Homo sapiens: one gene and its partners. The protein of the gene in region 1 purifies or fractionates together with the protein of each later gene. This does not show direct contact. Each region holds a gene or a part of one and is shown in the gene's direction. Other genes may lie near its edges. The genes, in order: FGFBP1, UTP14A, LTV1, SUGP2, NMNAT1, USP36 and ZNF638.

Evidence for each region.
Region 2: the proteins of FGFBP1 (region 1) and UTP14A purify together in Homo sapiens (affinity purification with mass spectrometry; one large-scale study listed by BioGRID and IntAct). This does not show direct contact.
Region 3: the proteins of FGFBP1 (region 1) and LTV1 purify together in Homo sapiens (affinity purification with mass spectrometry; one large-scale study listed by BioGRID and IntAct). This does not show direct contact.
Region 4: the proteins of FGFBP1 (region 1) and SUGP2 purify together in Homo sapiens (affinity purification with mass spectrometry; one large-scale study listed by BioGRID and IntAct). This does not show direct contact.
Region 5: the proteins of FGFBP1 (region 1) and NMNAT1 purify together in Homo sapiens (affinity purification with mass spectrometry; one large-scale study listed by BioGRID and IntAct). This does not show direct contact.
Region 6: the proteins of FGFBP1 (region 1) and USP36 purify together in Homo sapiens (affinity purification with mass spectrometry; one large-scale study listed by BioGRID and IntAct). This does not show direct contact.
Region 7: the proteins of FGFBP1 (region 1) and ZNF638 purify together in Homo sapiens (affinity purification with mass spectrometry; one large-scale study listed by BioGRID and IntAct). This does not show direct contact.

The regions. Positions count from the first base shown.
Region 1 is NC_000004.12:15,935,941-15,940,112, reverse strand, and holds the start of FGFBP1 (fibroblast growth factor-binding protein 1 precursor), read left to right. Parts: upstream 1-1,372; 5' UTR 1,373-1,426; intron 1,427-1,641; 5' UTR 1,642-1,862; intron 1,863-3,460; 5' UTR 3,461-3,480; coding exon 3,481-4,172.
Region 2 is NC_000023.11:129,919,664-129,923,163, forward strand, and holds part of UTP14A (U3 small nucleolar RNA-associated protein 14 homolog A), read left to right. Parts: intron 1-793; coding exon 794-917; intron 918-1,011; coding exon 1,012-1,089; intron 1,090-1,139; exon of another isoform or gene 1,140-1,279; intron 1,280-1,530; coding exon 1,531-1,924; intron 1,925-3,500. UniProt on the Homo sapiens protein: May be required for ribosome biogenesis.
Region 3 is NC_000006.12:143,846,338-143,849,837, forward strand, and holds part of LTV1 (protein LTV1 homolog), read left to right. Parts: intron 1-3,500. UniProt on the Homo sapiens protein: Essential for ribosome biogenesis.
Region 4 is NC_000019.10:19,002,518-19,006,017, reverse strand, and holds part of SUGP2 (SURP and G-patch domain-containing protein 2), read left to right. Parts: intron 1-1,371; coding exon 1,372-1,850; intron 1,851-2,409; coding exon of another isoform or gene 2,410-2,504; exon of another isoform or gene 2,505-2,522; intron 2,523-3,500. UniProt on the Homo sapiens protein: May play a role in mRNA splicing.
Region 5 is NC_000001.11:9,967,475-9,970,974, forward strand, and holds part of NMNAT1 (nicotinamide/nicotinic acid mononucleotide adenylyltransferase 1), read left to right. Parts: intron 1-3,500.
Region 6 is NC_000017.11:78,830,815-78,834,314, reverse strand, and holds part of USP36 (ubiquitin carboxyl-terminal hydrolase 36), read left to right. Parts: intron 1-3,500. UniProt on the Homo sapiens protein: Deubiquitinase essential for the regulation of nucleolar structure and function. Required for cell and organism viability.
Region 7 is NC_000002.12:71,334,782-71,338,281, forward strand, and holds part of ZNF638 (zinc finger protein 638), read left to right. Parts: intron 1-3,500.

The DNA.
Region 1 (4,172 bases):
ACTCCCCTTGTTGAGCAAAGCAGCTTTGCCTTGCCTATGTCCAAATAATCCTCCAAAATACCGCATGAGAGAGCCTGTTCGTGGAGGTCAGGGCCTCAGCGGGGTGTTTGTGAGGATAGTGAGGACGGACCCCTGGGTGAGGCAATTTTAGGAGAGAGGCACACAGCTTCAGAAATGGCTTCTTCCAACAGATTCATGCAGAGACTGAGCCTCTGAGTAAATTGGTCAACATCTATAGCTATGACCACGGAATTCTCAAACAGGTGGATCGTTCATAAAATCCAAACACAGTTACAAGTTTTGGCCTGCATAGTGTTGAGCTACAGCTTTATTTTTAGAAAATTTTAATTAGCTGCCAACCAATTTCATATAAACACATCTGGATTTGGGGATGTCATTTTAAAAATCAGACAGTGTGACAATACTGAGCCTAATCCCTGCATTTTCTCAGTCAATTGGAGATGAGTGTTGACCTCTATGGAGGCAGAGACTCTCTAGTTTGCCACAGTCCCCATCACTCCCTATTGCCTTATCTCAAACCCAAAAGTCAGTTGCCATTTAATATCACACTAAACAATAGTTTTCTTATGGCTGAATTAAGGAAAAGTGAACAATTTCTTCTTCTGAAAATCTATGAAAGGTGAGGTGATAATATATAATGAGGGCCACATCTTCCCTGTAGAAGTGAGTTTCTTTTTAAATGCTGCATATGTAAATAACAAATGTCTGTTTTCAAAGTATACAACTTAAGACCCTGTCATGAGGCAAAACGATTCTGCTCCACTTTATGTTAACAGCTTAGCCCAGTAAAAATTTAGTATGCAGCTATAAAGGAGACGTTGTTATTGTCAGCACACTGCAAATGGATGATGGGAGAGGCTAAGTGGTTTGGGCATAGCACTCAGCTAAACACATGCTGTGGCCAGGATTCCACCTGGGTCATTCTGGTGTGGGACTGTGCCTGTAGCAGGCAGGGCAGCCTGAGCTCTCTGAATGAGACCTGAAGGTAAGTATTTACAACAGTAATCTTATATTAAAAATTCCCTCTTTACCAGCCTCTCAGAGCCTGGTAGAATTCCCTGATAAAAAAGAGGGAATTTTTAATGTAAATTTCCCTGCCTCTAGAATTAGGGTATCCTCTGCTTATGTAGTAACTTCAGATGGAAAAAGGAACTCAGACACTACGAAAACTTCGGCAACTTCAGTCACCCATTCAACAAAGATTTATTGAGAGTGGCAGGCAGGAAGAGATCAGACCATGGATGTAGAGAATCTCACTTTTAATTTTGAGATGTTCCTTTTCCTGCCTCTGTGAACTTGGACAAGCTCTTACATATCTCCAGAACCAATTCCTGCTTTTGTAAAAGGGGAGGAATCATTGCACTCCCTACTAGAGCGGATGTGATGAGGGAAAAGGAGAACTCAGGTAAAATGGGCTCAGTAGTTTGGCAGCTCGGATCATGTCATTATAGTTATTTTACTCCTCCATAGACATCACTGCTGGGGTCCTCTCCCCATCAAGGAGGGTCACTGTGAGGCTGAGTTGTCCTCCTATCCTGGCCACAGGGTGGACAGGGAAGGGCCTAGAGGAAGCGTTTGATGGCATGCAGGTAACCCCCCTTTTCACTGGATTACATCCAGCACTTTCCCTGCAGGAACCGGCTCCCTCGGAGGGGCGTGGCTGGGAGGAGCTGTGAGTAACGTGCCACAGTGTTGTAAAAACCCAGTGAGTGTTATAAAAACCCAGTCAGCCTGGCTCCTGTTGAATAGTCTACCCCCCTTGCACTCTACCTGACACAGCTGCAGCCTGCAATTCACTCGCACTGCCTGGGATTGCACTGGATCCGTGTGCTCAGAACAAGGTAAGAGCCTCGCTCCTTTAACAGCTTTATTACCTGCTGCCACTTCTCACTCCACCAAGGGCCTGGAGTTCCTTGGGCCTGCATTCCATCATGGGCAGGTGGGGGCTGAGCCCCAGGGCCGTGAGAAATGACTGGGTGTTTTTCTGGCATATCCAGTCTCCTCTTCACCATTTATTGCTGTTCTCTGCCCTTTTGTGATTGTCTTTCTCCTTCTTAACCCTAGAAGATGGCCAACTTCTAGGGTAGAAATCAGATCAGGACCATTTCCTGGGTCTGCCTCTTTTTATAAAAAATTCTGTGTTTTGTTTTAAATGGAGCACAAATAATACAAATCATCTTATCATTATGTGTTATATGAAACTAAATTGTCATTGTTCATAGTTGTTTTTCTTATTCTTTGGCAATGTTTTTAAAGGGCAGAGTAAATGTGAAAAGCAAAAAGTGATCAACCAGGGGTGACAGAAAGGAATAAGGAGATTGATCTGGCTACCCATACCAGCTTTGAACTTGCCCACTATGAGATCCTGAGCAATTTACTTACCTGTCTGAGCCTTAAGAGTCAGAGCTGTCACCTGGGATGACATATTAATAGCTACCTGGAAGAGCTCTTGTGTGGATTTCACAAGGTGGGAATCAAACCCTAGACCAGTACTTAGCACACAGGAGGTGTCATATAGAAACTGACTTCTCTTCTTCTGTTAAGCATGGGTTTTTATTGTACACATGATCAGATTCATGCAGTTCAGTGTGACGTTGGTGTTCATCCTATTGATTCAATGATTTCTCATGATCCTTGTCTTCGATCTTGTAGTGTGAACTATCTGGTTGAAATTCACCTCTCTCCACCCTGATTCACTTTGCCCAGGCAAATCAGACAACCACCCCACCTCACACCTTTCCTTAAACTCTTACTTCCCCACAAAAAGCTCCCCCACCCCCACAACCCCACCCACCCCACCCAAACCCCAGGCATGTTCAACTCTGGGTCAACATCACCTTTCATGATGCTTACCACATCCTTTCTCATTTTGGGCATCTGTCATGTCTTTTCTCATTTTGGGCATCTGTGTCCATATGGAGTCATGAGATAGAAATCCAGCCCTTTGGAGCTGAAAGTTTGGAGCAGTAACTTGTTTCATATCAGAAACAGAGATGACGGGATAGATTCCCTGATCAATGCTATTTAAATTCTCCCAAAGAGTGGTCTCTAAGCTCTTTCAAATCTGAGGCTTTCTCAATCATGGTGATTTCTTCAACACCTAGTCTGGTGGGGGGCATATAGTAGGTGCTCAGTAAATGCTTGTTGAATGAGTGAATGAAAGAGTGAGGAGTGAGCAGATGCAGGAGTTAATGAGTGAATAAATGATAAATGAGAGTTCGTGAGGCTCCAAAGAGTGGTACTTTTGTGACACTCAAGACTCAAGTCAAGTGGAAATGTGAGTAGACAGGCTGTTTGTCTAGTGACTCCAGGAGCCAGAAGCGTTCTTGGTCTACTCTGAAATCATGTAGGCACCTGTCAGGGTAGGGGGAGGCCAGCGTGTAGTCCTGCACAGCTGAACTGCTGCCTGCCACTGACTCACTTGCCTTTTGTCAAACAGGTGAACGCCCAGCTGCAGCCATGAAGATCTGTAGCCTCACCCTGCTCTCCTTCCTCCTACTGGCTGCTCAGGTGCTCCTGGTGGAGGGGAAAAAAAAAGTGAAGAATGGACTTCACAGCAAAGTGGTCTCAGAACAAAAGGACACTCTGGGCAACACCCAGATTAAGCAGAAAAGCAGGCCCGGGAACAAAGGCAAGTTTGTCACCAAAGACCAAGCCAACTGCAGATGGGCTGCTACTGAGCAGGAGGAGGGCATCTCTCTCAAGGTTGAGTGCACTCAATTGGACCATGAATTTTCCTGTGTCTTTGCTGGCAATCCAACCTCATGCCTAAAGCTCAAGGATGAGAGAGTCTATTGGAAACAAGTTGCCCGGAATCTGCGCTCACAGAAAGACATCTGTAGATATTCCAAGACAGCTGTGAAAACCAGAGTGTGCAGAAAGGATTTTCCAGAATCCAGTCTTAAGCTAGTCAGCTCCACTCTATTTGGGAACACAAAGCCCAGGAAGGAGAAAACAGAGATGTCCCCCAGGGAGCACATCAAAGGCAAAGAGACCACCCCCTCTAGCCTAGCAGTGACCCAGACCATGGCCACCAAAGCTCCCGAGTGTGTGGAGGACCCAGATATGGCAAACCAGAGGAAGACTGCCCTGGAGTTCTGTGGAGAGACTTGGAGCTCTCTCTGCACATTCTTCCTCAGCATAGTGCAGGA
Region 2 (3,500 bases), on another chromosome or scaffold:
AAAGATGACTATTCAGTTACTTTCTCTGCCTTCCAAGGCATCACAGAGTGGTTCTGCAGAATCAGCTCTGAATTCCAGAGCTGTTAAGGCCAATAGGGCTTCCTTCCTGCCTTTTTGCCTCTTTGAAACTTGTTCGGCCGGGTGTGGTGGCTATGCTTGTAATCCCAGCACTTTGGGAGGCCGAGGTGGATGGACCACTTGAGCTCAGGAGTTCAAGACCAGCCTGGGCAACATGGCAAAACTGGCTGGGCACGGTGGCTCACACCTGTAATCCCAGCACTTTGGGAGGCTCAGGCAGGTGGATCACTTGAGGTAAGGAATTCAAGACCAGCCTGGCCAACATGGCGAAACCCCATCTCTACTAAAAGTACAAAAATTAGCCAGGCATGGTAATGTGCACCTATAGTCCCAGCTACTTAGGAGGCTGAGGCGGGAGGATCGCTTGAGCCCAGCGGGTGGAGGCTGCAGTGAGCCAAGATCATGTCACTGCACTCCAGCCTGAGTGACAGAGTGAGACCCTGTCTAAAAAAAAAAATGAAACTTGTTCTACCCCTCCCTTGAGTTATAGAGGCAAAGGAGACTCTTTGAGCTGCAGAGGTCCACCCTGAGGACTGTGGGTACCAAGAATCTTGCCAGTCCTGTCAGGTCCCAAACTGACTCCCTATAGCCAACTAGCTCTATGATGCCCATTCCAGCCCCCTGCCTAGGGAACCCATTGGGTAGTATGGGCACTTGTGCCTATGACATCCGTGCTTCAGCTAAATTGCTAAACTCTTCCCTCCTACCCCTACAGGTATCACAAAGTCGTGAAGAAAGGAAAGGCCAAGAAAGCCCTAAAAGAGTTTGAGCAGCTGCGGAAGGTTAATCCAGCTGCAGCACTAGAAGAACTGGAAAAAATTGAAAAGGCCAGAATGATGGTGAGACTACCTCTTGCCCCACCCCCACCCCTTTGAACCAGCTTTCCTTGGAAGGCACTAAAGATGTAAATCTCACTCTGTCCTTTCTTTCTAGGAAAGAATGAGCCTTAAGCACCAAAACAGTGGGAAATGGGCCAAGTCAAAGGCAATTATGGCCAAATATGACCTGGAGGTAAGAGACCCTTGGGGTGAGAGAAGATCTGGAATTGGAGGATGCTAGCAGAAGCAGAGTTGGGGAAGAGCCATGAGGATGGATGGAAAACCAGGAATCTAAAAAGGCATCAGAAAAATCTCTAAGGCAGAAAGGAAAATGACCAGGAACAAGGTGGAAAAGGAGAGATGAAAGGGAAACAGCATTGAAGGCAAGTCCAAAGGGGGAGAGGAGCTTTTTAAAATCTTATTTCACCGTTGATTCCTTGAGGACAAAGAATTTGTCTTCCATTTTATACCATAGCTATTAACCCAGCATTGTATATGCAGTTTAAACAGTAGGTACCAGTAAGAAATACTCACCAAGTCAAATTGAGAGGAGGCAGCTTTATGAAATGGACCAGGAAAGGTGTTATTGCGGTCACTAATGACAGGGCTCTCATGCTGTGACTCTTTCCTCCAGGCTCGCCAAGCTATGCAGGAACAGTTGTCTAAGAACAAAGAACTGACACAGAAACTCCAGGTAGCCTCTGAGAGTGAGGAAGAGGAGGGAGGCACAGAAGATGTGGAAGAACTCCTTGTCCCTGATGTAGTGAATGAAGTGCAGATGAATGCAGATGGGCCGAATCCCTGGATGCTCAGGAGCTGCACCAGTGACACCAAAGAGGCTGCAACCCAGGAGGACCCTGAGCAACTGCCAGAGCTTGAGGCCCATGGAGTTTCTGAAAGTGAGGGAGAAGAAAGACCAGTGGCAGAAGAAGAAATTTTGTTGAGAGAATTTGAGGAAAGGCGATCCCTTAGAAAAAGATCTGAGCTCAGCCAAGATGCTGAGCCAGCAGGCAGTCAAGAAACAAAAGGTGAGCTGTGATCAAATGGAAGAGGGAAATTCCTAGTGCTGTGGACAGACTATGGGAGAAAAAAAAAATGTGTCCACCCACACACAAAACTGCATAGTGATTAGGCGCTGGGGACTTGCAAGAGTGCGTACACTGGATCCCTGAAGAGAAATTAGATTCATAACTATTTTTCTTCGAAGACATTTAATAAGCAGTCATCTGCATGGCCGTGCAACGTGGTTCAGGCACATTTTCTGTTCTTGGGGGCTTACAGCCTTCAGAAACCCATAATAACTAAACCATACTCGAAGTCAGGGTATGAGTTAGCGTTCCTGGTACCTACACACCAGGGAGAAGTACGTATGGTAGAATGGCAAATCTGAAAGTCCATTCACACCTGTAGACACAGATAGGTCAATTTTGAGACATTAGGAAACATTGTCTAGTTGCTGGATTTTTTTGTTTTGTTGGTTAAGTAGGAGTGGCATTTTTAGCACTTCTTAATGCTAGTTGATGTGTGTATACATGGGGTGAGACTTTACGGAATGAATGACTCCACAGGGCCACATGGCAAATTAGAATTGTGACTCCATACTCAGGCTCTATTTGTATGTTATATTTTCTACCTGTTATCTTGAAGAGATCTTATTGACAATGTTAGCACCTGTGAGATTGGTCAGAGAGTTCCCATTCTGGCAATAAACCAGGACACTAAAAAACCTGCCTAGGAAACTAGCTACATTGAGAAATCACTTGGCTATCTGGACAAATTACCAGGTCTGGTTTGGTTTCACATAGGAATGCATTTAGATGATGGCAAAAATCTGGTTTTACACGGCAAAAGAATTATTTTTTTCTACTTTTTTTTGTTTAAGAGACAGGGTTTTGCTCTGTCATCCAGGCTGGAATACAGCAGTGCAATCATACCTTACTGCAGCCTAAGACCTCCCAGGCTCAAGCGATCCTCTTGGCTCAGCCTCCCAACTAGCTGGGACTACATGCACGTGCCACCATGCTGAGCTAAGTTTTTGTAGAGACTGAGGTCTTGCTCTGTTGCCCAGGCTGGTCTTGAATTCCTGGCCTCAAGCTATCCTCTCACCTCAGCCTCCCAAAGTGTTAGGATTACAAGTGTGAGCCACCGCACCCAGCCTCCTTTTTTTTTTCCTTTTTTTTTTTCAGGTTTCCACATACAAAAATTTATTTTAAAAGAGCTATCATTTAGAATATATTATAGGGACCTTTACTTAATAGTTTTGGCTGGATATTTTTGGGATTAATAATTGCAAGTAGTCACTTCTGAGAGAATTTTGGAAAGCAGCACAGCGGGCTGAGATTGTGGGGGTGTACATATATGACCACAGGACCCTAGTGGCTTTCTCTTGAGCCCCCTCAACAACTGGCCATCTAGCTAAATGTGCAGAGCGGCTGACTGTGATATGAAAGAATGAAAGATAGATTTGCATTTCCTTGGACAGTAAATAAATTGAATTTTCTCACACCTTCCAAGAGTGTCCTAAAATACTGGAAAGCCACGGACCCCAGTGAAAATGAGCAAGGAAACCTGATTCTTGAGAAATAAACGTACATGTGTCCAAAG
Region 3 (3,500 bases), on another chromosome or scaffold:
ACGCCTCCACTTAAAATTATATATGTGTATGCATGTGTATACCATCAGGAGAGAATAGGTCACGTCTTCTCTGGTGGCAGGTGTCAACAGTAACAGCCTTTTTATAGGTTCAGAACTTTTGATTGATAGACATGGCCATGTTAGACAGCACTTTTCAATAGGAGAAAAGCAGCTGACATTCTACATGTTAACAACATAACTGTTTTCAGGATCATAAACTCTTGTTCTAAGATAGGACTTAACTTTTGTGGAATATTCAGATCTTTAACACTTTTGTAAAAGCTGCAGGCTACTCATAAGCAAACAGAATGAGTGGATGATAATAACATTCCTGTCTTGTAAACAAATGTTCGGTCCACTTTAATACCTTCTCTTTCAGGACAAATGATAGTACGTGTTTATAAGAAATTAGTGCTGTTAGTCTAAGTTCTGTTTTCTCCCCTGTTTATGTTAAGAATGCCCATGTTGTATGCCTCCGTGACCTTATTTTTAATTTGATGTAGAGTAAATTTTCCTGTGGGAAACTTTTATATCACCTAGCACTTTAAAAAAAGGAGACATTCATTAGGTTTATAAGCAAAAGGTAAGAGATAGAAAGGGCACCAGTTTACCCTGCTCCTCATTCCCCAATTCTGTCATGGTCTAGGCATTCCTTTCCTTGGGGAAGATGTGATTGTAGTTCTTATAGGCAATAGCTTGTTGCTTAAGGAGACTCAGAAAGGTTAGGTTTCAGGATACCATCCCAAAGAAAGGTAATAACTGCAGCTGCTCGTTCACTAAGTAGGTTGTGGCTCTTTTGTAACGCCCCAAATCCCACCACATCTCTGTCATAGAGAACCAACTTCTTTATTCCTTCTTCCTCAAGGCTTTATTGGTAGTAGGGACTTATTGGCTCACTTGCTTCTATAACCTATTGAAGGAGAGAAGGGGTTCCTTAGTGGCTCAACTTGTTTATCTAAGGGAGAAAATTCTTAGTAAAGTCTTGCCTGGCTTGTATTGACCAGTACAAGACTAACTTTTGTTGTTGTTGTTATTGTTGTTGAGACGGAGTTTTGCTCCTGTTGCCCAGGCTGGAGTGCAGTGGCACGATCTCGGCTCACCGCAACCTCCGCCTCCCGGGTTCAAGCGATTCTCCTGCCTCAGCCTCCCTAGAAGCTGGGATTGCAGGCATGTGGCACTGTGCCCGGCTAATTTTGTATTTTTAGTAGAGCCGGGGTTTCTCCGTGTTGGTCAGGCTGGTCTTGAACTCCCGACTTCAGGTGATCTGCCTGCCTCGGCCTCCCAAAGTGCTGGGATTACAGGCGTGAGCCACCGCGCCCGGTCGTATAAGACTAACTTTTAATCCTTAATTCATTTTGAGTAAAAGCAATCACTAATTGGCTTTTTAACAGGATAAGGCTCTTAAATGGACACTTCAGTGACCTTTGCAGGGACAGCTGAATTGTATTTAAAAACAGAAGTGTGGTTGGTTTTCTGAAGAGCTATGAAAAAATATGGATTAGTCCCATATACTTTTTTTACTTTAATTTGTAACACACCACCAAATTCGAGTAGATTAGAAATAATGAATAACCCCTAGAAACAGTGTAAGACAGTGTAAAAAGGCAGTATAGAAATGATTGATGCTTGAGCAGGCCCTGATTTTGACATGAAAGAAAGATGGTGGTGCTGTTGTGGAAAGTAGCTGGGCAAATGTCATGTAGTTGAGAACTACTGCAACCAATGAAAACACAGCACTCCTCTAAAAACAGAGTAATTTCTCTTTAAACTCTTAATCGTGTATGTGATTGACTACTTTTCAAGATTTGAAAAATATCTCACAAAGGTAAATTCATTTAACACAAACTGACCTTGTGTTTAACCCCAAACTTCTAAGGATAAATATCACAAAGGTACCTTTTTAAAAACCTAAAAGACTATGTAGATTTTACTACAATTTTAAGTAATTAATAATGTAATATCCTTAAAAAACATTAAATTGTACACTTTAGGTGAATTGTATGTGAATGATGTCTTAGTAAAGCTGTTTTCTTAAAAATATACTCTACAGCAAAATAACATCTTTGCCCATGTTTGTGCTACTGAGAAACTCATTTTGGAAGCCATAACATCTTGCTGTGTGTACACTGCCATATGTAGCCTTTACTCATGCTCCTCAGAGGCTTCCAATTCAGAGAGCTTTCTCAGTGAGCCAATGAGGATGCACATTCCAGCTTTGTGCCTCCTCCTGGGCTGAGGATAGGGCAGGTGGTGAGGTGCACAGAGATAAATAACACATGGCGGTTGTCCTCACGTTATGAACTGTTTGGTCAAGGAGAGGAAACAAGCATAAGAACCAGTCAGAGAATGTAGGCTAGCAAGCACATGTTTGAGTAGATTGCAGCGTGTGAAGAAGGCGGGAAGTTCACACAAAGGGAAGTTCTAGGACAGTGATCAGAAAGGGCTTCATGTCGGAGGGTAGGAACCGAGCTGGCCACCAAGTGGTGGGTACTGTTGACAGGAGAAGGAACATTTTCAGTCAGGCTGCCGAGACAGTGAGCACTGTGGTTCCGTGTCAGGCACATGCGCGCCAAGTAAAGTGTTTTGCATTATTACATGACTGAGGAATGAACTTGATTTGCATGGTCATATAGAATAACTGAGAAATTTGGATACACAGAGTAGGCCTTGATTTTATAGGTCCTTGAGAACCAGGGCCTTAAATACAGAGTGAAAAATTGAGACCTGTCAGAAACTCAAGAAGGTCACATGAAAAACTATTAAAGGAGCTTAATCTCGCCATGGGTATGAAGGTTGTAGTAGATATAGACTAGCTATATGAGCGGTTGCAGTCATTTATGTTTTGGTTAACTATAAATGAGGTGATGCCCCAAAGAATAGAGTGAAATCACTGTATGTAAGAGATTTCAAGGGGACATAGGACAGAGCAAAATGATTTATAACCACCCGAGGATTTAAGATTGCCAATTCATACAAGGGCTGTGCCATTACTAGAGATTAGGACATTATCTCTAGTTTAAGAGGAAAATGTTTAATTTTGGTTTGAAATTTCAGGCAAGTGGAGTTAAGAAACTCTGGGATTTGAATCCCAGAATCTCACTTACTGATCATTCTCAGGCAGGTGGGCCATTTAAACTTTCCTAGTTTTTGTTCTTTTGGTAAAACATGGTGATACCTCATGGGATCTGAGGGATAAATGGAATAATTTGCTAGAGAAGGCATTGTGATGTATTATAGAGAGTTACTTTTGGGTTTATGATGGAATATACATGTTTAACATATATACAACCTGGAGCACAGGTGAGAGAACACAGAATGTAGTTGTAATAGTTTCCTAGGACTGCAGTAACAAATTACCACAAACTAGGTGACTTAAAACAACAGAAATTTCTTCCTTCATGGTTCTGGAGGTCAGAAGTTTGAGATGAAGGTATCAGCAGGTTTGGTTTTTTTCTTGGGGGCTTAGAGGGAGAGGCTGTTGAATGGCTCATTCCTAACTT
Region 4 (3,500 bases), on another chromosome or scaffold:
ACCTCAGGTGATCTGCCTGCCTCAGCCTCCCAAAATGTGCTGGGAGGCATGAGCCACCATGCCCGGCCCAGATTCATTTGTTTCTGCTGATATTTAGTTGTATGTGTGTGTGGTGTGTGTGTGTGGTGTGTGTGTGTGTGTGTGTGTGTGTGTGTGTGTGTGTGTGTGTGTGTTTGTTAGCCTGGTATAGTGGCATTTGCCTGTGGTCCTAACTACTTGGGTGGCTGATGTAGGAAGATTTCTTGAGCCCAGGAGTTTGAGGCTGCAGTGAGCTGTGATCACACCACTGCACTCTAGCCTGGACGACAGAGTGAGACCCCATCTCTAAAAATGTGTAATAATAATTATAAAGCCGTCCAGCTTTTCCAATACCATTCTTTGAAAGACCCACCCCTTTTTTGTAGTAGTTTGAGAGGTTACCTTAATCAAATGCTGGGTTTCTGGTCTTTCTATTCTGTTCCTTTGGTCTGCCTTATGGACTACTATGCTGTTTAACTCTAGAGGCTTTGGGGCATTTTATAGTGCTTGGTGGGGCTGGAACCCCTTATGAGTCTTGTTCAGAGTTTTCCCAGATACTCTTACATATTATTTTTCTTTATGAACTTTAGAACCATCTTGCCCTGATTCAGAATGGGATTTTATTGGGATATATTAATATGCTAACTGGGGGGACTTGGCACATTTATGAGGTTGAGTTGCCTTACGAGGGCCATTTTTCCTTTGGTCCAAGTGGACTTTGGTGCTTTCGGGAGTGTTTCAAGTTTCTCATACCAGCCACAGCTTCATAGCTGTGGTTACAAGTCGAGGTGGCCACCAGACCCCTGAGGCACAGAGAGGCCTCATCTCCACGCCCATGTAGGTGGACTGCAGGCCCCAGAGCGGGAAGTGCTAGGGGTGAGGAGCCTCCTCGGGGGGCACCTTACGGTTCCATGGTGCACATGTTCCAGCAGTAACTGTGCAGCTCCTCCTGGCATCGCTCCATGCTTCTCATACCTGGGAGGAACCAGAGTCAAAATGGGCACATGGAGGCCCAGAGAGGCCAGTGATGTAACCAGAAAGGGTGAGATGGGTCTCAAGCCAGATCTCTATTCCAGCATTTTCCCAAGCCCTGCATACCTTGTTCGTCCGCCTCTGTCCCCTGGAAAGCAGTTAGGCTTCTTGAATTCTAGCTCCTTATTAAGTTACTAGTACTCCTCAAATTTTCTATCATTGAGAGGCTGCACCATCAAGCCATAGCCGCGTAGAGACTGGTCAGGTTATTCTTTCCCTTGTCCCACCTCCACCTTCCTTGGATCAATCCCAGCAGTTTCAGCAAATAAAAATGTTGAGAGATTCCATCTGGTTACCCAATGTATTTCCTCTGTGCCCCAGGTTTCTACATGACCAAAATAGTTCTGCTTTCAAATTCTATCGAAAGAAAGTGTTTGAACTATGTCCATCAATTTGTTTCACGTCATCTCCGCACAACCTTCACACTGGTGGTGGTGACACCACGGGTTCTCAGGAGAGCCCCGTGGACCTCATGGAAGGGGAAGCAGAGTTTGAAGACGAGCCCCCTCCGCGGGAGGCTGAGCTGGAGAGCCCAGAGGTGATGCCTGAGGAGGAGGACGAGGACGATGAGGATGGGGGAGAGGAGGCCCCCGCTCCTGGAGGGGCGGGCAAGTCTGAGGGCAGCACCCCTGCCGACGGCCTTCCCGGCGAGGCTGCCGAGGACGACCTGGCTGGAGCACCTGCCTTGTCACAGGCCTCCTCAGGTACCTGCTTCCCTCGGAAGAGGATCAGCAGCAAGTCATTGAAGGTTGGCATGATTCCAGCTCCCAAGAGAGTGTGTCTCATCCAGGAGCCAAAAGGTGAGTGCCCGCCTGTCGGCACAGTTGCCTCTAGCACAGTTCTTGGTTGGTGGGCTGTGAGAGTTAGAAGAGACAGGTGGAGACATTTTAATCCAAAAGAGTTTTGTGCACCACTCCAAAATGTGAGCCGACACTCATGTTTCCCAGTGGTCTGAAGGCATTGCTCTAAGGACATGTTTCCTTGCTACCCTGTGGCTTCTGGCACTCTACTTGCTGCTGGACATTTCCCTGATTGCCTGGATTCAGGTCGGGGCATCCCCAACTGTGGAGGGGATGGGCCTGGGTCATCTCAGCTGTTTTCCTGCCTGTGACTTTGTCAGCTGGGGGCCCTTCTGAGCCCCTGGAAGGCCCAGGGTGCTGATAAGCTGCTTCATGTCATGACAGTGAGATGGGAACAGAGCAGGGGTGGTCCCAGGCAGTGGTCAGTGGGACCTGCCTCGGCCATGAGAGGCCATCTCCTGCTCTCCTGTGGGGAGGTTCCGGGTTCTTGAGGTATAATTTACCAGCAGTGAAACGCACCCTTTTCAAGTGGACCATTTGAATTTTGTTGACTGTGCAGAGGCGAGAACCCACCAGTACAGCAGAGCTGAAGCCTGTTCCCAGAACGGGTCTCTTGTCCCATTGCAGTCCCCTGCCCGATTCAGCAACCACTGACTGTTTTCCAAGCCCCAGGTATTCTATCTTTCCTAGTCTGTCAGTACATAGAATTGCATCGCATGTGGCCTTTTGATGGGCACGCCGTGGCCCAGATGACTCCTGTGCCCCCAATGCCCTCCAAGCTGTCTCCCCACAGTCAGGCCTGGACCGTGCTTTCACATGGGACTTCTGCTGCAAAACCTATGTGTGAAGTTGTAGTGAATGGTGCCCCATTGTGGGACTGTGTTAAACAGTCACCTGTGTGTTCTACATCATTCAGACAGTCACATTTACATGTGACAGTGGCCTTATGGTTTTTCCTGCTTTGGAATAGTCCTCATGTTTTGTGTTTGAAAAATTTGGTGTTGCAGTGAAATGCTAACCATTCTACTATAACCTTTACCATCCTTCAAAACTTCTCATGGGGCCAGGCGCAGTGGCTCGTGCCTGTAATCCCAGCTTAGCGGGACTGAGGCAAGAGGATCGCTTGAGCCCGGGAGCTTGAGACCAGCCTGGGCAAGATGGCCAGACCTAATCTTTACAAGAAAAAAAAATTAATGTAAAAAAAATGAAGTAAATAATTAAACTTGTCACGGATGGCAGGTAGTGTATCAGAGTGCTTGTTATGTATGCTCTTCTTGGGGGGAGGTGGAGTTTTTTATTTCTGCATTAGAAGCTCTCAGTTCTTTGGGTAGTTGATGAGATAAAAACCAGACCTGCGCCGGGTGTGCTGGCTCACACCTGTAATCCCAGCACTCTGGGAGGCCAAGGCGGGAGGATCGCCTTTGGTCGGGAGTTTGAGACCAGCCTGACCAACATGGAGATATCCCATCTCTACTAAAAATACAGAATTAGCGAGGCGTGGTGACGCATTCCTGAAATCCCAGCTACTCGGGAGGCTGAGGCTGGAGAATCGCTTGAACCTGGGAGGTGAAGGTTGCAGTGAGCTGAGATCACACCACTGCACTCCAGCCTGGGCAACAAGAGCGAAACTGTGTCTCAAAAAAAAAAAAA
Region 5 (3,500 bases), on another chromosome or scaffold:
GCAAAGCGAGAAATAAATAGGGGATCTAACCCAGGAAAGAGATGAAGAAGTTTTCAGAATAATAGCTTCACAAATAGAGATTTTTCATCTGGATAAGAGGAGGAGAGTTCCAGAAAGAAAATCCTCTGGGAAAAAAACAGATTGAATAGAATAGCAATTGTAAATTAAACCATTTGAAATTGATGTTTTGTTGATTAAAAAAAAAATTGCTTGCTGAGCACAGTGGCTCATACCTGTAAGCCCAGCACTTTGGAATTGGCCAAAGTGGACAGGTTCGCTTCGAGATTCTGAGCCCAGGAGTTTGAGACCAGCCTGGGCAATATGGCAAAACCCCATCTCTACAAAAAATACAAAAAAACAATTAGCCAGTGCATGCCTGTAGTCCCAGCTGCTTGGGAGGCTGAGGTCGAAGGATCACTTGAGCCTGGGAGATGGAGGTTGCAGTGAGCTGAGATTGTACCACTGTACTCCAGCCTGGACAACAGAGTGAGATACTGTCTCAAAAATCAAAAAACAAAAGACAATTCTAGTAACATAATTTGCAACATTCATAATAGCTATATTCATAGCATGTTTGCTATTTGCCAAATGTAGTTTTTTTTTTTGTTTTTTTTTGAGATGGAGTCTCGCTCTGTTGCCCAGGCTGGAGTGCAGTGGCACGATCTTGGCTTGCTGCAAGCTCCGCCTCCTGGGTTCACGCCGTTCTCCTGCCTCAGCCTCCCGAGTAGCTGGGACTACAGGTGCCCGCCACCACGCCTGGCTAATTTTTTTGTGTTTTTAGTAGAGATGGGGTTTCACCATGTTAGCCAGGGTGGTCTCGATCTCCTGACCTCGTGATCTGCCCATCTTGGCCTCCCAAAGTGCTGGGATTACAGGCGTGAGCCGCCGCGCCTGGCCTGCCAAATGTAGTTCTATGTCTTGGATCTGTATTGTTTCATTTAATCCTCACAACAATCAGGAGGTAGGTAGTATTATTTTCTCCTTTTTAAGATTGATTAAAAACTGGGACAAGGTGGGCACTGTGGCTCATGCCTGTAATGCCAATACTCTGGGAGGCCGAGGCAGGTGGATCACTTAAGGTCAGGAGATCAAGACCATCCTGGCTAACATGGTGAAACCCCGTCTGTACTAAAAATACAAAAAATAATTAGCCAGGAGTGGTGGCGGGCACCTATAGTCCCAGCTACTCGGGAGGCTGAGGCAGGAGAATGGCATGAACCCAGTAGGCGGAGCTTGCAGTGAGTCGAGATCATGCCACTGCACTCCAGCCTGGGCGACAGGGCGAGACTCTGTCTCAAAAAAAAAAAAAAAAAAATTAGCCAGGTGTGGTGGCACGTGCCTGTAATCCCAGCTACTTGGGAGGCTGAAGCAGGGAGGATTGCTTGAACCTGGAAGGCAGAGGTTGCAGTGAGCTGAGATCGTACCACTGCACCCCAGCCTGGGTGACAGAGCGAGACTCTGTCTCAAAAAAAAAAAAAAAAAGCCAAAGAAAAAACCTGGCACAAAAGGAAGGTTAAGTTAGGGTTAGGTTGCCCAAGGTCATGCCGTTGGAGCTGCAATTTGAAGCCAGGCAGCCTAATATCAGAGCATAGGCTCTTAACTCTTCTGTTATATAGGCGGGAAATTGTAGGATACTTTCTTGTAGAGTCTGACTAATCCAAGCAAAAAGACCTGCGGTACTGACAGGTTACTGAACAGTTATGGCCCCTGTGCACAAGCCCTACCTACCCACTCAGCCTGTCCCATCAGCTCTTTTTGAAGAAACTTTAAAATATATCATGAATATTGGTAGAGAAATAGAGATGATAATCTGTTGGGGAAATGAGTAGAATACCATAAACAGGAGTATTCAGAGGATAGGGCTCTTGGAAATTAAGAGTGTAATGGCAGAAGTGAAAACTAGGCAGATTGGAGGATGAAGTTGAGGCTATCAGGAAATTAGAGCATGAAGGCAGGAGGTGGAAAATACAGAAAAAATGATTAGATGCTTCAGCTCTAAATAATAGACATTTTCAGGCCAGGCACAGTGGTTCATGGGCGGCTGAGGTGGGTGGATCACTTGAGGCCAGGAGTTCGAGACCAGCCTAGCTAACATGGTGAAACCCATCTCTACTAAAAATTCAAAAGTTATCTGGGTGTGGTGGTGCATGCCTGTAGTCCCAGCTACTTGGGAGGCTGAGGCAGGAGAATTGCTTGAACCTGGGAGGTGGAGGTTGCAGTGAGCTGAGATCGTGCCACTGCACTCCAGCCTGGGTGAGAGAGGGAGACTCTGTCTCAAAAAAATAAATAAATAATAGACATTTCAAAAGAACAGATAAAATGGGAGGCAGAAAATCATCAATGAAAGAACTCAAGGACATTTTCTAGAACTGAATGTTACAAGTTTCCAGACTGAAAGGACCTGCTTGCCCTGTGCTCAGCATGATGGATAGAAACAAAGCTGCACTAGAGGACAGCACTGTGAAATTTCAGAACACTGCGGACAAAGAGAAGACCTTACATGCTTCAAGACAGGAAAAAAATGACATTCAAAAGCTCCGGAATTAGAAGTGGCTTTGGATTTCATGCTATTAACATTGGAATCTAGAAGTAATGCCTTTGAAGTTGTGAGAGAAGATGATTTTCAACATAGTCTGGAGATAAACTATATTGGGCAGTTTGGGAGAAGGTAGTCAAAGGGTATGAGGGCTAATCTTTATAGATCATAAAGTCAATGGGCACTGTTATAGTTGGATAAATTAAGAAATGGCATTATAAGCACATAATGTAGAGTTATGGTAGAAACTACCAGAAGAAATAGCTGAAAAAGTTAAAAGTGGTTGGATGGAAGGGATGATGAGTGGAATATGATTGATGGCTGTTGGTTTTCATTAAGGGCCTTTTTTACCCTGTGATGTTCTAGATCTATATATATGAATTAGTTGAATAAGAAATTTTAGGCCAGGCGCAGTGGCTCACGCCTGTAATCCCAGCACTTTGGGAAGCTGAGGCAGGCGGATCACAAGGTCAGGAGATGAAGACCATCTAACATGATGAAACCCCGTCTCTACTAAAAATACAAAAAATTAGGCAGGTGTGGTGGCAGGCACCTGTAATCCCAGCTACTCGGGAGGCTGAGGCAGAAGAATGGTGTGAACCTGGGAGGCGGAGCTTGCAGTGAGCTGAGATCGCGCCAATGCACTCCAGCCTGGGCAACAGAGTGAGACTCCCGTCTCAAAAAAAAAAAAAAGAAATTTTAATAAAAACCTAAAATTGGATGCCTTATGTTACTTCATTAGGGTTATGGAAGGATCAGTGGAATAACTGATATGAAAAAGAGGTTTGTAAATTATATTCTATTATTTAGTGGAAAGTTATGATGTTACTATCATGTTGACTAAAAGGCAAAAATGCTGTATTTGGTAGATGATAATATTGTTGTATTAATTAACTGTGGCCACAATAGTGCAATCACAAAACTTGAGTGACATATGATAATGAACACTAATTTTTTGTTTTTG
Region 6 (3,500 bases), on another chromosome or scaffold:
ATTGGTTAAAAATCTTCCCATAAAAAACCCCAAGCAGAGACAATGTTATTTCTGTGTAACTTTTTTTTTTTTTTGAGACGGACTCTGTTGCCTAGGCTGGAGTACGGTGGTGTGATCTCAGTTCACTGCAACCTCCGCCTCCTGGGTGCAAGCAATTCTCCTGTCTCAGCCTCCCAAATAGCTGGGACTATAGACGCACGCCACCACGCCTGGCTAATTTTTGTATTTTTAGTAGAGATGGGGTTTTACCATGTTGGTCAGGCTGGTCTTGAACTCGTGACCTCAGGTGATCCAACCGCCTTGGCCTCCTAAAGTGCTGGGATTACAGGTGTGAACCACTGTGCCCAGCCAATTTCTATGTAACTTTTAAGAAACAATTCCAATCCTTTACACGTTCTTCCAAAGAATAGAGGAGGAGAGAATCTTTCCCAGCTCATTCTATAAAGTTCCTATAACTCGGATAACAATAATAAGGAAAATGCGAGAAAGAAAATGGATAACCACAACTTCTTCACGAACATAGATATAAAAATTGTAGGAAAATACTACCAAATGACACAGTTTCTAAAAAACTGTAAGCAACTTATGTTTATCCTAGGAATGCAGGATGTTTTCATCGCAGAAAATCTCTAAGTAGAATTCTGGAGGGAGCAGAGCAGTTGAAAACACAGCTCAGGAGCCTGGCCTGTAGGGTTTGCTTCCCAGTTTGCCCCTTAGTAACTGTGAGTTTTTGAGAATGTCCCTGGTCTATGGAAGAATGAGACTGTCTTCCTTACAGAGTTGCGTGAGGCTCCGATAAATTCTGAGTGAGTCAAGTGCCTGGAGTAGCAGCCCGCAAAGAGGGAGTGCTATAGAAGTGACTGCTACTGGCTGGGCACGGTGGCTCACACCTGTAATCCCAGCTACTTGGGAGGCTGAGGCAGGAGAATCACTTGAACCTGGGAGGCAGAGGTTGCATTGAGCTGAGATCACACCACTGCACTTTAGCCTGGGCAACAGAACAAGATTCCGTCTCAAAAAAACATAAAAAAAAGAACACAAGATGGCCATGCAGTGGGAAGTGTTTGTAAACATCTTGCTAATTGCGATGGCTTCATAGCAGCAAAGGTTAATTATCAAGGCATAGTTGTTGAGATGAAGCAGCACATTGTTTGGGGGCGTTTTTTGGAGATGGAGTCTCGTTCTGTCGCCCAGGCTGGAGTGCAGTGGTGCAATCTCGGCTCACTGCAACCCCCGCCTCCTGTGTTCAAGAGAGTCTCCTGCCTCAGCCTCCCAAGTAGCTGGGACTGCAGGTGCCCGCCACCACGCCTGGCTAATTTTGTATTTTTAGTAGAGACGAAGTTTCACCATGTTGACCAGGCTGGTCTTGAACTCTCGACCTCAGGTGATCTGCCTGCCTCTGCCTCCGAAAGTGCTGAGATTACAGGCATGAGCCACCGTGCCCTGCAGAAGCACATTGTTGAGATGGCTAATTGTAGCCCCTATTTCCAGTGGTGACCTTGGTAATTTTGAGGTGGTTCTGGGTGGACTTTCAGTAAGATTTGACTAGATGGCTGTTGTTTTCGTCTCATGGTTTTGGCAGTAAGACTCTGCTATCCCAGGCCTGTCAGGGCTCTTCCACTGTAGAGCTGCCTTCCATTCTTGGTTTCTCTGCAGGATCTTTTTGAGCCAGTTGCCAACTTTGTGAGGATTAATTTAGTTAAAACTAGATAATATCTGTAAATCCCCGTAACCTGGCACAGGTAAGCTGCAGTTTGTTGCAGCATGTCAGCAGCAAGCGTGTGAGTAAGGCAGCCATGGCCATCCCTTCAAGGGGAACGCCTGGTCTTCCTTCCAATACCGGTCCCATGGGCCAGTATCACTGTGAAATATTAGTGCATCTTACTATCTTGGAACATATGAAGAGACGTTGTGGCCTTTTTTTCCTGCACCCCACTGGATCCTGAGTGACCCCTAAGTGGGCTTTGGCTGTGGTCTCCCCCTCCTAGCACATGGCATTTGAAGAGTTGAGGATCCTAAGGGGTGTTTGTTCTGACGAGGGTCCACTGTGCACGTGGCACGGAGCAGCAGCTCCTGCCGTAGGCTGGACTGTCTCTGGCGCTAATATTTAGCTAGAAGAGAAACACTGTGTAAATAGTCTAGGAGGAACGCAGTTCAGTCCTGTCCTTTTGTTTCCCAAATCTCTCTATGTCCGTGTAGTCATGGATTGACTTTTGAGTTATATTTTCCTAAATTACATGAATAAATATTTGTCCATGTGCCACTTAAATTAATCTCATATATTGCTGGAGAACCTGGCTTAGATTGTTATTTACCCTGTTAAGAGTGATATTTTATTAGGCTGAAAGAAGCTTTTTTTTTTTTTTTTTTTTGAGACAAGCTCTCACTCTGTCACGCAGGCTGGAGTCCAGTGGTGTAATCATAGCTGACTGCAACCTCCACCTCCCAAGCAATCCTCCCACCTTAGCCTCCCAAGTAGCTGGCACTATAGACTCATAGCACCATGCCCAGCTAATTTTTTTTTTGTATTCTTTGGGTAGAGATTTGGTTAGGCAGTGTTGCCCAGGCTGGTCTCAAACACCTGGGCTCAGCGATCCTCCTGCGTCAGCCTCCCAAAATGTTCGGATTATAGGTGTGAGCCACCATGCCCAACCAGCAGCGTTTTATATATAATGATTAGAGGCTTAATTTCTACACAGTTTTTTGAGACAGAGTCTCTGTTGCTTATGCTGGAGTGCAGTTGCCACAGTCTCGGCTCACTGCAACCCCCACCTCCCAGGTTCAAGCGATTCTCTTCCCTCATCCTCCCAAGTAGCTGGGATTACAGGTGACTGCCACCACACACGGCTAATGTTTGTATTTTTAGTAGAGATGGGGGTCTCACCAAGTGGCCAGGCTGGTCTTGAACTCTTGACCTCACGTGTTCCACCCGCCTCACCCTCCCAAAGTGCTGAAATTACAGGTGTGGGCCCCCATGGCCATTTTCTTTTGTAGTAAAACTGTATCTTACCTGAAGTTAGGTTTTGGAAAAAAAAGAGCTCTTCAATATTTATGTTGTCCCTTTTTTTTTTTTTTTTTTTTTTTTTTTTGAGATGGAGTTTCACTCTGTCGCCCAGGCCGGAGTGCAGTGGTGTGATCTTGGCTCACTGCAACCTCCGCCTCCCAGGTTCAAGCGATTCTCCTGGCTCAGCCTCCCGAGTAGCTGGGACTACAGGCACGTGCCACCATGCCTGGCTAATTGTTTGTATTTGTAGTAGAGACGGGGTTTCACTGTGTAAGCCAGGATGGTCTCAACCTCCTGACCTCGCGATCCACCTGCCTCGGCCTCCCAAAGTGCTGGGATTACAGGCGTGAGCCACTGCATCTGGCCTGTATTTTCTTTTAAATGACATAATTTTTGCCTAATTTTGAGTTCACCAATCATTATTGTCATTTTAAAAATAAAAGTAATAACATGGATATAGTTAGAAAAGGCAAGCAGAAGTCTAAAATGAAAAAAA
Region 7 (3,500 bases), on another chromosome or scaffold:
GTGGTGGCGGGCGCCTGTAGTCCCAGCGACTCGGGAGGCTGAGGCAGGAGAATGGCGTGAACCCGGGAGGTGGAGGTTGCAGTGAGCCGAGATTGCGCCACTGCACTCCAGCCTGGGCGACAGAGCTAGACTCCGTCTCCAAAAAAAAAAACAAAAAAAACTCCGGTGAGGGTTAAGAATAATAAGGGTTTTGGTTTGAAAAGAAAGTCCAGGGTTTTGGTTTGAAAAGAAAGTCCAGGAAACAGGAGAAATAGCTTTAACGTACATTATGTTTTTTTGCTTTGTTTTTGAGACAGGATCTCACTCTTTCTCTAAGGCCACCATGGTTCCCTGCGGCCTCTACCTCCTGGGTGCAAGCGATGTTCCTGCCTCAGTCTCCTGAGTAGTTGGGACAACAGGCACACGTCCCCACACTTGGCTAATCTTTTTTAAAAAAATTCATAGAGACAAGGTCTTGCTGTATTGCCCAGGCTGGTCTCAAACTCCTGGACTCAAACCATCCTCCCACCTTAACCCGCCTAAATTGCTGGGATTACAGGTGTGAGCTATTGCGCCCAGCCTGTTTTCTTCATGGTTACCCTAAGGAACATATATTTTGGATTATTTTTTAATTCTTTTGAACCAAAATATATTTATTGTTCATTCAAGTTTTAAAAAAAATTTCCTATCTTATTTCCACAGTCGGTTAAACTTTTAGCTAACTTGCCTATTGTCTCTGCTGAGTTAAAGTTGCCAACTTTTGTTTTAAATATTTTTACCAAAAAAAAAGAAACAAAACCATTTTACTATGGAAAATTTTAAACATATACAAAAGTAGAGAGAATGATACTAATTCATTCATGTGCCTGTCCAGTTTCAATTATCTAGCTAATGGTCAGTCTTGTTTCATCTCTACTTGCTTATTTTTAAACAAATGCTTCTATCAGTTCAATATATAGTTCAGAATTTTCTCTAGAGTGTTTAGAAGAAAACATGCATATTACACGTAAAACAACAGTAACTATGAGTAATTAATTTTAATGTCAGATATTCAGACAGATATCAAATTTCCCCAGTTGTAACTCACTACCTCCCACCCCCATGCATATGTGGTAAAGGTTGTTGGAGTCAGGATCCAACTAATGTTCATAATTCATTTATAATTGGTTACGATTGATAACTCTCAAGTCTATAAACTCCCCACCTACCTTTTCTTAGAGTTTACTTGAAGAAAAACTTTGCTTTTTATACATTATTTAGATAATCTTTTGCTTCATCAGCATCTGAATTCATGAATTTTGATGTGACTTTAAAAATGTACTTGATAAGGCCGGGGCACGGTGGCTCACGCCTGTAATCCCAGCACTTTGGGAGGCCGAGGCAGGCGGATCATCTGAGGTCGGGAGCTTAAGACCAGCCTGACCAACATGGAGAAACCCCGTCTCTACTAAAAATACAAAATTAGCTGGGGTGGTGGTGCATGTCTGTAATCCCAGCTACTCGGGAGGCTGAGGTAGGAGAATCGCTTGAAGCCGGGAGGCGGAGGTTGCGGTGAGCCGAGATTTGCGCCCTTGCACTCCAACCAGGGCAACAAGAGTGAAATTCCATCTCCAAAAAAAAAAAAAAAAAAAAAAAAAAAACCAAAAAAACACAAGTGCTTGTTAAACAAATTGCTAGATCTCAATATAGGAAATACTGAAAGAAAGGTGGATGTAAGCAATTAACTCCTATGTCTAATATAATTTTCAAAAATTACTCGTCTTACTAAAAGAAAGAAACACCTATTAAGCATTTTGTTTACTGTTGAGCATTTTTTGAGCACCTGTTGCATGTCAGGATTTACAATTTTAGTTAATCTTCACAGCAGCATTCCCAATGGGTACTGTTGTTTCATTTTCACAGGATGAAACAGGCTTGGATTAACCAGCTTGCTCCGGGTAACATTGTTAGCAAGCAGTGGGACCAGAGTTATTTCACAGGATGAAATAGGCTTGGATTAACCAGCTTGCTCAGGGTAACATTGTTAGCAAGCAGCAGGACCAGAGTTAAAACACTGAATGTAGGGTCTAAGTTCTTAAAGACTGTGCTGCACTACCTCTCTAAAGCTGAATTAGTAGTGCTAAATTTTACTTAAGGAGTTAACTAATTTTGCATGAAGTCATTCACTGGCACCCCTCCTAGCAGGGTGGGTATCTTCAGATCAGTGGAAATTTCCCCAAAGATTAGATTATTATGGATTGCATAATAGGCTGACTAACAGTCAATAGTTAGGAAGTGAACATGATGTAGAAAAGAAGGGCCAAATCCAAAAATGTGTTTAAGGCTGATGCTCTTTATTATACTGCAGGTTTTCTGCCTCTTGCCATATTGCCTATAGTTTTTTTTTTTTTTTTGACTTTGTATAAAGTAAGAAGATCACATAGTCCAATGTTGGACATGAAATGTTGTGCCATTAACTATATTTGAATGAATTTAAGTGACAGGTGGTGGGGGAGTTCCCTGTCTCCTGCATATATGGTTTTTTCCCGAAAAGTTTGACATTAAGTTGCATATATTGTGGTCCTTTATCTCTAAATACTTCAGTGTGTATTTCCTAAAAATATTTTCTTTCACAGTCATAGTTACCAACTTCAATGAATTTCACGTTTATAAAATCCTTTTTTATTTTTTTGAGGAAGTGTCTGGCTCTGTCACCTAGGCTGGAGTCCAGTGAGTGATCTCGGCTCACTGCAATCTCTGCCTCCTGGGCTCAAGCGATCCTCCCAAGTGGCTGGGAGTACTGGCTCAGGCGCGCACCACCATGCCTGGCTACGTTTTATATTTTTTGTAGAGATGGGATTTTGCCATGTTGCCCAGGCTGGTCTCGAACTCCTGAGCTCAAGCATTCCACCTGTCTCGGCCTCCCAAAGTAGTAAGATTACGTGCATGAGCCAATGCGCAGCCTATAAAATTATTCAGTCTACTATTTGTATTCTGGTTTTTGTCAATTGACCCAATATTGTTTTTTATAGCAGTTTTTTTTTCCCCCTCCAGTACAGGACTAAACTAAGATCAGATGTTGCATTTAGTTGTTATGTCTTTTTAATCTTCCTTAGTCTGGAACATTTCCATAGTCTGCCTTTATCTTTTGTGAAGTTGACATTTTTGAAGAATACAATCTGCTTTGCTTTTCTCTTTAATAGAGCACTTCTCATTTTGGATTTATCTGATGTTTCCTCTTGATTAGATGTAGATTATATGTCCCTGGGCAGAAAAATCACGTAACTAATGCTATGTCCCCAGGATATCAGATCTGGAGATTTACCATTTCCATTTGCCCTTCATGCATGATACTATGTGTGAGCATATGCTATGGTTAAAGTGCTTGTTTCCCCCCACTCCCCCTGGAATTAATCTCTGGAGAGACGTTTTAAGACCATGCAAATATCCTGCTCATTAGAATTTACCTCTGTAACACCCACTCATGATTCTTACCTGAACCATCCTTTACTATGATGGTTGCAAAATGATTTTCTACTCCA